2 separate regions of the Homo sapiens genome follow, and region 1 is linked to region 2. The links come from fine-mapping of genetic effects on gene expression. A gene starts in region 2. The other region holds a variant in brackets. All regions are shown on one strand. Distances are between the middles of the regions. Region 1 overlaps ETFBKMT (electron transfer flavoprotein subunit beta lysine methyltransferase). Region 2 holds the start of AMN1 (antagonist of mitotic exit network 1 homolog).

Region 1 (2,910 bases), 61 kb before region 2:
CCTGAGTAGCTGGGACTATAGGTGCCTGCCACCATGCCTGGCTAATTTTTTTTTTTTTGCATTTTTAGTAGAGATGGGGTTTCACCGTGTTATTCAGGATGGTCTCAATCTCCTGACCTCGTGATCTGCCCGTCTTGGCCTCCCAAAGTGCTAGGATTACAGGCATGAGCCACCGCGCCTGGCTGAAAACCTTTATTTTATAAAGGAGTCTCAGTTCTTTTTTTTTCTTTTTTTTTTTTTGATACAGAGTCTCACTCTATTGCCCAGGCTGGAGTGCAGTGGCACGGTCTTGGCTCACTGCAACCTCCACCTCGTGGGTTCAAGTGATTCTCCTGCCTCAGCCTCCCGAGTAGCTGGGATTACAGGCATGCACCACCATGCCCAGCTAATTTTTGTATTTTTATTAGAGACAGGGTTTGACCATGTTGGCCAGGCTGGTCTTGAACTCCTGACCTCAGGTGATCCACCCGCCTCGGCCTCCCAAAGTACTGGGATTATAGGCGTGAGCCACTGCGCCCAGCCAAGGGGTCTCAGTTCTAATTTATTGCCATGCTCAATCAAGCCCAAGTCTCGTTTCCCTGTCCACAGTAAAAAAACAAAATCTTTTGGTTAATGAAATCAGCAAATATTCCTAAAAGTCCCAGCATTTCTAGGTGTTTTGAATTGTTTGTTTTCAGGATATCCAGTCATGTATTTGGAAATTGTGGTATAGCTTATATTGGGATAACCTTTATACTTCTCTACTTTAAAAAACAACTTTCATCAAAAAGGAAGAAAAATATATTGTTAGCAGATCTTCTAAATTATTTAATCAACATGGAATTATAACAGCCTAGCATATACCAATTCATTTTGTGCTTTTTTTTTTTTTAAGTTGCAGGAATGGCTATTACACTAAATTGTGAATTGAACAGACTGAATCCTTTTCCTATTTTAATCCAAAACATTTTGAATTTGGAACAAGATAAGTGGGACCTTGTTGTTCTTGGCGATATGTTTTATGATGAAGACCTTGCAGATAGTCTTCATCAGTGGCTGAAGAAGTGCTTCTGGACCTATAGAACTCGAGTACTGATTGGTGACCCTGGGCGGCCCCAGTTCAGTGGACACAGCATTCAGCATCACCTGCACAAAGTGGTAGAATATTCACTTTTGGAGTCTACTAGGCAGGAAAACAGTGGACTGACAACAAGCACAGTGTGGGGTTTTCAGCCTTGAGTTGTCAAAGTGCTTCCAAGTATGAATATAGTAATGTTTGGATCTGACTCTAAAAGTTTTCTCTATAGGAGATACTCTCCAGTTTAATGAATGTAATTCTTGTTAAATGGAAAATCTTGTTTTTAAAATATGAAGGTTTAGAGTTTTGTTTACTTTTGTCATGTAACTGGTTCTGTATTTCTATGCATGCCAATTATACACATCTCTATCTGCATTTTTTTTTCTATTTTAACCGCTGAAGGAATATGATTATACAATGCCATACTCAATGGTGGCAGCATTTAATTTAAGTAATGGAGAAGAATTAAACATTGTAGCTGGATCTGTTTCTGTAGTCGAGGACAACTGTGATGTAACTTTGAATTAAACAAACAAAACAAAACAGAAGAAGACTATATATATATTTTTTCTTTTTTTAGAGACAGTCTCACTTTGCTCCCAGGCTGGAATGCAGTGGCTATTCAGAGGCTTAATCATTGGGCACTGCAGCCTTGAACTCTGGGCTTTTTTTTTTTTTTGAGATGGAGTCTCAGCTCTGT[C/A]GTCCAGGCTGGAGTGCAGTGACTCATGTCTCGGCTCACTGTAGCCTCCACCTCCCCCAATCAAGCGATTGTCCTGTCTCAGCCTCCAGAGTAGCTGGGATTTTAGGTGTGCACCACCATGCCTGGCTAATTTTTGTATTTTTAGTAGAGACGGGGTTTTGCCATGTTGGCCAGGCCGGTCTCAAACTCCTGACCTCAGGTGATCCACCCGCCTTGGCCTCCCAAAGTGCTAGGATTACAGGTGTGAGCCACCACGCCAGCCTGACGATGTTTTTTACTTCTATCACTTCCTTTTGATTTTTTCTTATAGCTTCTATCTCTGCTTACGTCACCCATCATTCTTGCGTGTTGTATGCTTTTCGCATTAGAGCCCTTTGCATGTTAATCAGTTATTTTAAATTTATGATCTGGTAATTCTAAAATGTCTGCCATAACTGAGTCTGGTTCTGATGCTTGTTTTCTTTTCAGACTGTTTTTTTGTCTTTTAGCATGCCTTGTAATTTTTTGTTGATAGCTAGACATGATGTATTGCATAAATAAACAAGTAAACTAAGGTAGCATGAGGTTTTAAAATCTGGGTAGGGCTACTGTTTGCTGTAGAGTAGATATTACAGGCTAAATTTTCCTCTAGTGTCCTGGCTATTGTCTCCTCTGTTATCTTTGAGTTTCCCTAGAGATTCCTTCTTATATAGAGTCTGAAGCTTGCAGTTTTTTTCACCTGTAATTCCCTGTTATTATACAGTAGCCTAACTGATGTGATAAGGTATGGGAGAAGGTATGTTCTATAGTCCTGTGATTAAGTCTCAGTCAGTTAAGTCAGCCTGTGCCCCTGCTGTGACCTTCACAAGTGCTTTCAGCTTTTCTTTTGTCACTTTGGTGAGACAGGAAGGCTAGAGGCAGCTGGAGTTGGGTGCTTCCTTTCCCCCAGGTCAACGAGGCTCTGGTAAAATAGTTTCCCTTGAGAACTGGCTTTTGTTAAGGAGAACTGAACACTTGGGCATATTTCAAAATGGTTACTTTCCCTATCCTCATACCAGAAGAGGGGATTTTTCTCTGATCCTCACCCTGAGAACCTGGTAGGTATCCTGGAGGTAAAACTATGAAAGTGTGGTGTCTCCCCTAGGAGTGGGCCCCCTGGAGTTTGTTTGTTTTA
Region 2 (2,910 bases):
ATTCTATTCCCAATGACCTGGCTTTATGTCTCACTACTGTGCTATTCATATTGTATCTTCCATTCACATTGGAGCGCTACTTTCTGGTCTTCTCTCATATTTCTACCTTTCCTGCCTGTCAAACCTTTACTCTTTTTATTTCACTCTCTACGATACATTTCCTCCCATTTGCAACCGTCAGATACTACCAATGTTCAAAAATAACCCCCTTGACAAAGCTTTCTCCTATTCTTTTCCTTATTAGAAATTTCAAAAGTTTGTTACTCTCCCGCTTGTGATATTATTCTACATATATTATAGTTATTTATTTTATTTTTTTGAGACAGTCTCGCTCTGTCGCCTAGCAGCCTAGGCGTGCAGTGGCGCGATCTCAGCTCACTGCAACCTCTGCCTCCTGGGTTGAGGCGATTCTCCTGCCTCAGCCTCCAGAGTAGCTGGGACTACCGGCGCCACTACTACTCCTGGCTAATTTTTGTATTTTTAGTACATGCCGCGGTTTTGCCGTGCTGGCTAGGCTGGTCTCCAACTCTCCTGATCTCAAGTGCCTCGGCCTCCCAAAGTGCTGGGATTACAGGCGTGAACCACCGTGCCCAGATAATTTTTGTATCTTTAGTAGAGGCGGGGTTTCGCCACGTTGCCCAGGCTGGTCTCGAACTCCTGAGCTCAAGCAGTTCTCCCACCTCGGCCTCCCAAGTTTAATGTAAAATATCAGATGCCATTGTTTCAGAAAGCCTTCAGTAGATTAAGGAGATTGTTCTCCTTATCCTTAAGATGTCTATTTTTTACATGGCAATATTAACGGACTGAAAGCTCCTGGAGAGACGCAATTGCCCTTGTAACTTCCATTTCCGTACAATTTCTGGTAGGAAATAATAATAACAATAACACTTAGTGGTGTTTATTATTTGCTGGGCATCCTTATAAGGGTTTTACATGTTTTAAATTTATCCCTCAGGACAACTCCATGTGATGGGTGCTATTATCACAAAAATTTTATAGATAAAGAACCTAGGCACAGGGAGAGGTTACGTTACCGGTCCATGGTCACGTGGCTGGTGAATGGCAGAGCCGGGGGCTGAACCCAGCAATCTCAGCCAGGGATCCGTGGTCTTAACCACTTTGTTACCTTTATCCCAGGGTCTGTCAATGTTTATTCCAGTTACAGGGGTGGAATTCTGCTAGAAGCTTTTGAGAACCTCATCTAGCGTTGTGTTTTTTTCTACCAAGGCTTTTAGCTGCTAAGAGAGAGGCCACTGCCAGTAACAGCCGGGGCGCCGAGCTGTCAAGGCTGACGGAGGAATGGACGCTCATCGCGCAGCGGAGTGTTGGAGGGGCAAGCCCGCCAAGAGACCCACTTTGCACAACTGTCCTCAGCCAGGAAACGACAGATCAGGAACCCAGGGACAGAAACACACGCGGGGCCTCTTCAGAGGTCGGCGGGGGGGGTGGGAAAGGGGCGGGGAGGAAGAGCAGCGCAGGGCCTGGCCGTTTGGAGGAGGTGCTGGGGCGGCGCGAAGGGAGGCGGGACAGGGTAGACTCACAGATCCAGGAGCTGACTGACCCGCCGTGGGCGAGGCATCGCTGCAGCGTCTGAAGCCTCTTCCGCGGTCCCAGGGCCTCCAGAACCCAGCCAGGGACCGTCCGCCAACTCCCGCCCACCGCGCGACGCGTAGGTTTTTGTGACGTCACACGGATTTTTCCGGTGACCGGGGCGTGGCCACGCTTCGGACTCCACAAGGAAAGAAGAGAGCCCCCTTTGGGGCGGAGCCACTGAGGGCTGCGCGGAAGAGGCTGGGTGTGATAAACTATAAAGAGGCCCTAAACTCGGATGCAACGTGACGGGAGTTGTAGTTCTTTCACCTGGCGGGCGTCTGCTCCGGTTCAGCTGCAGGAGGTTTCTTGGGAGTTCAGCCCAGCGCGCAGCCCCGCCGCGACGCCGCGAGCCGAGAACTCTCCTGGGGCGAAGGGAGCGCTGAGAAGTCGCTACTCTTACTAAAAGGATGCGTTGGATGCTGGGCCATACCCTTGGCGATGCACACTGGAGACCCGCTCGGATACGGACTCCATTAACATCAAACGGAGCGTGTTAGAGGATCCGAGTTTACTGAGCACTTTCTAGGAAGCGTGCACTGAGCTACGTGCTTTCTAGGCCTTAGTTCAATACTTAACCATATTCATTATAATCCGGTGAAATCGTAATTATTTAGCCTTATTTTACAGATGAGGACACTGCGTACCAACAAGTAACCTCACTAAGAATTTCGTCATGGAGGAGAAGGGAACCTGTATTCAAATTAGGAAGGATCCTGAAGAAAGGGCACCTTTAGGTGGAATTTTATCTTTGGTTCTGCTGCAGAGTACTTGCTGCTTTTTAGTGCTCCCTCCACCCCCCTCATTCTTCCTTGTAGATTAGTCTGTTGTTTGTATGCTGAGTTCCTTTTTTAAGCTCCTTGAAAGTTGGAACCCACTGCTGTTGCCTGTTCAGGATGCTACACATTGAATCAACATGGATTTATTAAGCGCTGAACGAGGGCTAGGGATCGTGCTGGGTGCTGAGGATTGAGTGGCGAACACTTGGGTCAGACAAGTAAAAGGGCAATTAGAATAACTGTTAAATGCTTAGATGGGGTTAGTTCTATGGAAGCACCCATGGGGGTGGGATACAGATCAGAGAGAAAAGGGTGGTCTGCAAATAGTTTGGGATGGCTACACTGGAGAGTGATCAAGAGTGAGTGTAGGGCAGGGGTTGGCCGACTTTTTCCATAAAGTGCTCTGAAAGTTGCAGATTCCAGGAGAAGTAACTATTGTCAGACCCAGACAAATTGGAGCCTAGAGACCAGAAAGGAAGGAAACTCATGCTTGTATGTCTGAGATAAGAACTGTCTCAAGGCCAGACGCGGTGGCTCACAC

The links. PIP is the estimated chance that this variant, and not a neighbour inherited with it, causes the effect. A credible set is the group of variants that fine-mapping cannot tell apart.
Region 1: its variant is the best candidate, but not a certain one, in a credible set for the expression of AMN1 in whole blood (TOPMed, PIP 0.81).

The regions. Positions count from the first base shown.
Region 1 is chr12:31,666,773-31,669,682 of GRCh38, forward strand. ETFBKMT (electron transfer flavoprotein subunit beta lysine methyltransferase) reads left to right here. Exons shown (of 4, transcript NM_001135863.2): 4 at 875-2,910. The coding sequence ends at 1,218. Among named protein-coding and RNA genes, the nearest start is that of ETFBKMT, 8.5 kb to the left of the region's middle. The variant C/A (reference allele first, on the strand shown) is at 1,758.
Region 2 is chr12:31,727,430-31,730,339 of GRCh38, forward strand. AMN1 (antagonist of mitotic exit network 1 homolog) reads right to left here and starts at 1,592. Exons shown (of 7, transcript NM_001113402.2): 1 at 1,542-1,592. The coding sequence starts at 1,579. AMN1-AS1 (AMN1 antisense RNA 1) reads left to right here and starts at 1,836. Exons shown (of 1, transcript NR_198987.1): 1 at 1,836-2,910. It overlaps LOC105369722 (a long non-coding RNA gene), which reads left to right. Exons shown (of 3, transcript XR_931497.3): 3 at 1,228-1,461. RefSeq lists a silencer at 1,381-1,460 and enhancers at 1,511-1,860, 1,873-2,505, 1,901-2,100.